Homo sapiens: one gene and its partner. The protein of the gene in region 1 purifies or fractionates together with the protein of each later gene. This does not show direct contact. Each region holds a gene or a part of one and is shown in the gene's direction. Other genes may lie near its edges.

Region 1 (3,654 bases):
AAAGCAGTGTTGATGAGTTATTATCTCAACGAGCAGAGCTTCTGTGGGAAGAGTGTCAGCCCGGGTACACTTTTTCTTCTTTATAAGGCAAGTTGGAAATACAAAGAAAGCACAGTGAGAGATAATGAACTGGAGTGGGGACCAGAATTCTGGTCATTGAATCCAGAGGGCCAAGCCTGCCAGTCTTCACTGTGATGCTTTTCTAGGCTTAGTAGTTAAGTCTTCATATTCTGGGGAAACTATAACTTGTGGAGATAAACTACCTTTTGTGTTTTGGGCCTGATACTTGGATTTGGACCTTTCTATGGAGCAATTCTGTGAAAATGCAGGTCTCAAAGTCCCAGGCTGTGGGAGTTTGGGGAGACAAGGAGTGTAACTGCTGTCAATGAAACAGCAAGGTCAGTGCTGGCAAATAGGATATGTCAAAAAAAAAATGCCTTTAAGTTATTGGACTTTATGTGTTCCAACATATTTCCTAGTGGCATGTGCCAGTGAATTTTCAGTTGTGAGGATTCTATATGTGCCACTTTGAGCTTGTGACTTCCTGTTTTTCCTCACGTATCCCCAGCTCTGAGGTGTACACTGCAGTAGGTCTGGGTACCTGTTGATAAACAACTAGTATGGACTGTTGGTCCAGCCAAGTCTTACCAAAGTATCCTGAATTAACTTGAGGTTAGAAGTCTCAGACTTGGCCGGGGGCAGTGGCTCACGCCTGTAATCCCAGCACTTTGGGAGGCCGAGGCAGGTGGATCACGAGGTCAAGAGATTGAGACCATCCTGGCCAACATGGTGAAACCCCATCGCTACTAAAAATACAAAAATTAGCTGGGCATGGTGGCACGTGCCTGTAGTCCCAGCTACTTGAGAGACCGAGGCAGGAGAATTGCTTGAACCTGGGAGGTGGAGGTTGCAGTGAGCCGAGATCGCGCAACTGCACTCCATCCAGCCTGGCGACAGAGCGAGACTCCGCCTCAAAAAAAAAAAAAAAAAAAAGTCTCAGTCTTGTATATGTTATGGGCCAGTTGCTTTAAAAAAAAAAAAAAGCACCAGAATTTTGTCATCAAATGAAATGTTTTCTGGAAGCATAAACAAGAACTACTCTGATTGAATAGTAAAAGGTGGGAGTGCTATGGGGCAGGGAGCTGATAGCCAGTAAGGGGTCCTTTTAGAAGGCTAGAATCCCAGTGTCATCTGGTTTTAGGAAAACAATACTAAGTGCCTTACTATTTTTTTTCTTTCTTTTGTTGTTTAGCATGTCCCAGGTTTTAAGTATTATAAGTCAATAGCACTTGTTAAAAGGTATTAACAACAGTGTAACTATGAGGGTAGAAATATTTAATTTTTGATGGGGGATCACTAATTGAACTCCTTTAGAATGATTGAAAAATTCAGTTTTCTCTTTTTAAAAAAATTCTTGATTATTAGCAACTACAAGAAATGGACGAACGAAGGACTATTAAACTCAGTGAGTGTTACAGAGGATTTGCTGACTCAGAACGCAAAGTTATTCCCATCATTTCAAAATGTTTGGAAGGAATGATTCTTGCAGCAAAATCAGTTGATGAAAGAAGAGTAAGTGCTAAATAATTATCTTTGAATGCATCTGTTTGGTTTAGGTGTGCAGTTTAAGTTAGTGAAATGAGTTGAGAAAGGGATAAAGTAATCTGATGTGTGGTTCTAAATTATATTCTGTAGAAGAATGTCTTGCAATAGATTCCTTTGAGTTCTGAGATTCATTCTACATGCAAAAGTTCTAATTCTTTCTTAAAAAAAAAAAAAAGATTTCTAACTCTCTTCTCCCACTAAGTTTTCAGTTCTTATCAAAGAGTCTAACCTAGGAACTGTGTGTTACAAATTGTGTTATACTATTATATTAGTTTAGTGAAAATTTAGAGAAGTATGTGGTTAGAGTTGCCTTTAGCACTTGAGCTGGATCAAGAAATGTGGGTAGCATATGGAGTGATGACCAATGAGGAGGAGGAAGGAGGGCATTATGTGCAGATGAAACAGCATAGCCCTCCTCCCCTTGAGGATAGGTAATCACATTGTATCTTGATTAAGGACTAGGGTCTTTTATCTCAGTAAATGTTGATTGAGTGATCAAAAAGCATGGTTGGCAGAAACTGAGGAAAGGCAGTGGCAAGAGAAGAGAACTGGTGTTTGCAGGATATCAGATATGTGTCACATATTTTAGTCTTCATGAACCTATCAAGTAGATATTATATTAGTGAGGATCCTTTCTGTTACAGCTAATAGAATTCTCACTTAAATTTAGAAAAGAGGATTTTTGGCTTTCAGCATGGCTGGATACAAGTTTATACAATATCATTACAGCCCTCTTCTCTCTAATTACCCTTTAGCAAATTATTGCTGAGGGTAGCATTACTGACAAAAGTAAGCTATGACTTAAGGATGACTTTTGACTAAATGAAGGGCAAAATGTACTGTTAACAGAAATAGGCAACAAAAGAGAGGTTGTTGTTAGGGGTGGGGAGGAATTTGTAGAGATACTCTGAAAATAATGAGTTTAAGGTATCACTAAAGCATTCAGGTAGAGGTATGTATGTCTAAAAACAATATTTATGTGAGTTTAAAAATTTTAAATACATGGTATTAAACTTTCAAATGTTGTTTGCACTCAGTAGTGTTTATGAGATCTTTTCCCTGTTGCTCTGTTAACATTCCACAGTATATATTTAATTTATTTATCTTTTCCCATGTTGGATGAGTTAGAAAGCCTTTCCTACTCATCTTTTACTCTCTTTTACAATTAGATGTTCTTTCCTCATTCCAAAGATTAGCTTCTTTGTTGACATCTATCTTTTAAAGCAAAAAGCCTTTTTCCTTTGAAACTTCTCAGAATTTCTACTTGTTAATAACCTCTTTCTGTATTCTTTTTGTCAGTTAGGTCTTTTTCAGCTAAGTAGTCTTCAGATGAATTTCAGGTGGTTAAAGCTACCAAGTAAAAACATTTTATGAATATTATAAATTAATTAAGTTGTAATTTGCAAGTATATTTTTCTTTTGGGATTAAAATACTTTGAGTTTGTTACACATTCATGGGAATAAATTATTTACCTTAATGATTATTGTGGAATTATTTATTTAAACTTATATTTGTTGTTTTTTTGTACTGAAAAAGTTATGAAAGCTGATGTAGAATTATGAGCAAGTGAAACAGTTTTAAAACCTAGTTTCTTTTGTATAGGACTCTCAAATGGTGGTAGACTCCTTCAAATCTGGTTTTGAACCTCCAGGAGACTTTCCATTTGAAGATTACAGTCAACATATATATAGAACCATTTCTGATGGGACTATCAGTGCATCCAAACAGGAGAGTGGGAAGATGGATGCCAAAACCACAGTAGGAAAGGCCAAGGGCAAATTGTGGCTCTTTGGAAAGAAGCCAAAGGTAAAAGTCATAAAATTCCTATATGCTAATCAGTTTAAGTGTACCAACTAAAACAATGTGGGTATTGAATGCAAAATGATTTACCATTAATGGAGAATAAATATTTTCAATTTGAATGATTCAGTTAACCTTTCACTTATATTAGGAATACCTTAACAGTAACAGTTATTTATGGATTTAACATTTGACTACCGCTTAATAATGGGTAAGAGTATTAACAAAGTTGTTAATATCTAGTTAAG
Region 2 (3,654 bases), on another chromosome or scaffold:
GTGAATGTGTGCGGGAGTGGTGTGGTGCCCACATCCTATGGGCTCTGCTTTTCTAGCAGGCACATTGTCTTTGTGGCGTAGTCCCTCACTTACTGAGATCCTCTGTGTGCACCTCTTTATGATTTTGATTTACTTAACAGTTTTTTTGGGTATGGATCTTGCTTTGATTTTAAGCATTTAGAGGGTCAGGGTTAAGCATTACCATGGTTGCTGGCCATGGTAAAATACATATCTGTTTATGTGTATGTACGTGCACATTTACATACATACATATATACTTACAGCTGCAGCAGAACCTAGGGAGGGTGATGGGAAAGAGTAGTGTAGATGCTCCCTAACATCCTACGTCTGAGAACATTGCTTAGGGCTGGCTGTATCACTTGCAGCAGATAGATATCCACTCAATTACATACACCTCCGCTTCAGACCCATTTGCAGCCCTCACCCTGCTCAGTTTTACTGAAGTCAGTGTGGGACTTGGAGTCGGAAGGTCGAAGCCAGTGCCTGTTTGAGATAGTCTAGCGATTACTGGTTTGAGATTGTTTCTTTCTAAATTAAATTGGGGATGGAAGGACCTTTGTTTCAGACAGCATGTCAGTCTAGACAACCACCCAAGATTTCCCACCATAAAACGTCTAGAAATGCTAGATAAAAATAAAGATCTTTTAAAAAGTACATAGTTTGGGCTGGGTGTGGTGGCTCACGCCTGTAATCCCAGCACTTTGGGAGGTTGAGGCGGGCGGAACACCTGAGGCCAGGAGTTCTAGACCAGCCTGGGCAACATGGTGAAACCCCGTCTCTACTAAAAATACAAAAATTAGCCTGGTGTGGTAGCGGGCACCTGTAATCCCAGCTACTTGGAAGGCTGAGGCAGGAGAATTGCTTGTACCCGGGAGGCAGAGGTTGCAGTGAGCCAAGATTGCACCACTGCACTCTAGCCTGGGAGACACAGCAAGACTCCGTCTCAAATAAAAAAAAAATTACAAAAATAAAAATACATAGTTCAGCTCGCAAGAAAGGGAAATTCTCTTACAGAGTAAATAAAGAAGAGGAGGCCGGGTGCGGTGGCTCACACCTGTAATCCCAGCACTTTGGGAGGCCGAGGTGGGTGGATCACAAGGTTAGGAGTTCGAGACCAGCCTGGCCAACATGGTGAAACTCCGTCTCTACTAAAAACACAAAAAATCAGCCGGGCGTGGTGGCGCACGCCTGTAGTCCCAGCTACTTAGGAGTCTGAGGCAGACAAATCGCTTGAACCCGGGAGGCGGAGGTTGCAGTGAGCTGAGATTGTGCCACTGTACTCCAGCCTGGGTGACACAGTGAGACTCCATCTCAAAAAAAAAAAAAAAAACCGAATGTGGTAAGCAGGCCGCCCTAAGGATATTTGCCAGCTGGGTCACCAAGAGTCCTTTGGTGCCTTGTGTGTGGGGGATGGGAATGGACAACTCCAGATAAAGCTGGGGACCCCGAGAGAGCTGTGCCCTCAGTGAGAGGGTAGACTGGAAATTTTTGCCCACCAGCACAGGGAAACAGAAAGGCACCTGGGCTCTGGGTGGTCAGCACATGTGTTGAGAGTGGGGATGCCTCCCAGAGAATTCTTTTTTTTTTTTTTTTTTTTTTTTTTTTGGATTTTTTGGAGATAGGATCTTACTCTGTCACCCAGACTGGAGTGCAGTGGCACAATCTCAACTCACTGCAGCCTCCACCTCCCAGATTCAAGTGATTCTCCTGCCTCAGCCTCCTGAGTAGCTGGAATCACAGGCATGCACCACCACACCCGGCTAATTTTTGTACTTTTAGTAGAGATGGGGTTTTACCATGTTGGCCAGGCTGGTCTTGAACTCCTGGCCTCAAGTGATTTGCTCACCTCAGCCTCCCAAAGTGCTGGGATTACAGGTGTAAGCTACCATGCCCGGCCTATGAGATTTCTTTTTAGGGTGATAGAAATGTTCTAGAATTAGATTGTGGTGATAACTATGAAACCACTAAAATTCCTTGACTTGTACACTTAAAATGGGTAGGAAAAAGAACATGTTTATCAAAAAAAAAAAAAGGAAAGAAACAAAGAGGTCTTCATGGGCGTGAAATCCTTTAACGTTTGCCTCAGCTCTGAGCTCCCCGCAGGTAAATATGCATGCCTGTGTACCCATTCTCTCCTACATTTGAAATCACTCTCTTCCATTAGTTTAAGGAGACAGGAGTTTAAGGAACATTTACTGAGTACTCACAACATTCCAGGTGCTGGGGCTGTAGGGACAAATAGATCTCGGTTACATTTTCGTTCTCATCCTCACTGCCAGGCACCCTGCCCCCATTTCTCCCACCTCATTTGACTGCCGCCTCCTAACTTGTCTGAACTCATCTGTCTCTCTGCTTCCCAGCTGGCTCCTCCCAAATCCATCCTACACATTGTCATCAAAGTTATCTTTTTTCTTTTCTTTTTTTGAGACAGGGTCTCGCCCTGTCCCAGGCCGGAGTGCAGTGGCGCAATCATAGCTCACTGTAGCCTCAAACTCCTGGGCTCAGGTGATCCACCTGTCTGAGCCTCCTGAGTAGCCAGTTCTATAGGCTTGAGCCACCACACTCAGCTAATTTTTAATTTTAATGTTATCTTTTTAAGACAAACCTGATCATGTCACTCACTTTCTGCCTAAAGCTTGTCAATGGCTCCTTATTGCCCAGAGGCTCATGTCAGATTTTCTGTAGCTTCCCTGCTTCTAGCTTCATCTCCTGCTGTGTTCCTACTTTTAAAATTCTCTAGCCAGAATGAATGATATTTCCCAAACAGTGCCTTTGTCAGAATGAATTCAGTTTCCCAAACAATGTTTTTACACAGCTCTGTATTTTAAAAAAAAGTGTTAAGTGGATCATACATACATAAGTATATAACATATTTAATACTAGTTATTTAAATAATAAAAATAATAACACTGTATAGCTCCGTTTTCATATGGCTATAAAGAGCTACCTGACACTGGGTAATTTATAAAGGAAACAGGTTTGATTGATTCACAGTTCCACATGGCTGGGGAGGCCTTAGGAAACTTACAATCATGGAGGAAGGGGAAGGGGAGGCAGGCACCTTCTTCACAAGGTGGCAAAAGAGAGAGAAAGTGGCACACTTTTAAACCATCAGAGCTCATGAGAACTCAGTATCATGAGAACAGTATGGGGGAAACTGCCCCCATGATCCAATCACCTCCCACCAGGTCCCTCTCTCGACACGTGGGGATTACAAATCGAGATGAGATTTGGGTGGGGACACAGAGCCAAACCATATCAATAGCTTAAGAGAATGCTTGCTTCTTTGAAGCTCCCTATTTTCTCCCTCTACCCTCCCTCATCCAGAGGTAACTGCTGTCCTGGATATCATGTTAATCCCTTGCTTTTCTTTACAGATTGACTGCATATGTATTTGTTCTTAAACAGTGTTGTTTGGTTTTGCCTGTATTTGAATTTTATATAAATTGAATCATACTACATGTATTTTTCTGTGTTCTTTGTTCAGTATTCTTTTTAAGATTCACTCAGGCTGACAAATGTAGCTGTAGTTTAGTCATTTTACTGTTACATATTCTGCTTGTAGGGATATACCACAATTCCATTCTGTTGATGATTTTTTTTTTTTTTTTTTTGAGACGGAGTTTTGCTCTT

The links. The genes of interacting proteins can lie anywhere in the genome.
Region 2: the proteins of FNBP1L (region 1) and ATP6AP2 purify together in Homo sapiens (affinity purification with western blotting, with the first as the bait; one study listed by BioGRID). This does not show direct contact.

What each region holds. Positions count from the first base shown.
Region 1 is NC_000001.11:93,531,497-93,535,150, forward strand, and holds part of FNBP1L (formin-binding protein 1-like), read left to right. Parts: intron 1-1,425; coding exon 1,426-1,572; intron 1,573-3,208; coding exon 3,209-3,412; intron 3,413-3,654. UniProt on the Homo sapiens protein: Required to coordinate membrane tubulation with reorganization of the actin cytoskeleton during endocytosis. May bind to lipids such as phosphatidylinositol 4,5-bisphosphate and phosphatidylserine and promote membrane invagination and the formation of tubules.
Region 2 is NC_000023.11:40,601,316-40,604,969, forward strand, and holds part of ATP6AP2 (renin receptor precursor), read left to right. Parts: intron 1-3,654. UniProt on the Homo sapiens protein: Multifunctional protein which functions as a renin, prorenin cellular receptor and is involved in the assembly of the lysosomal proton-transporting V-type ATPase (V-ATPase) and the acidification of the endo-lysosomal system.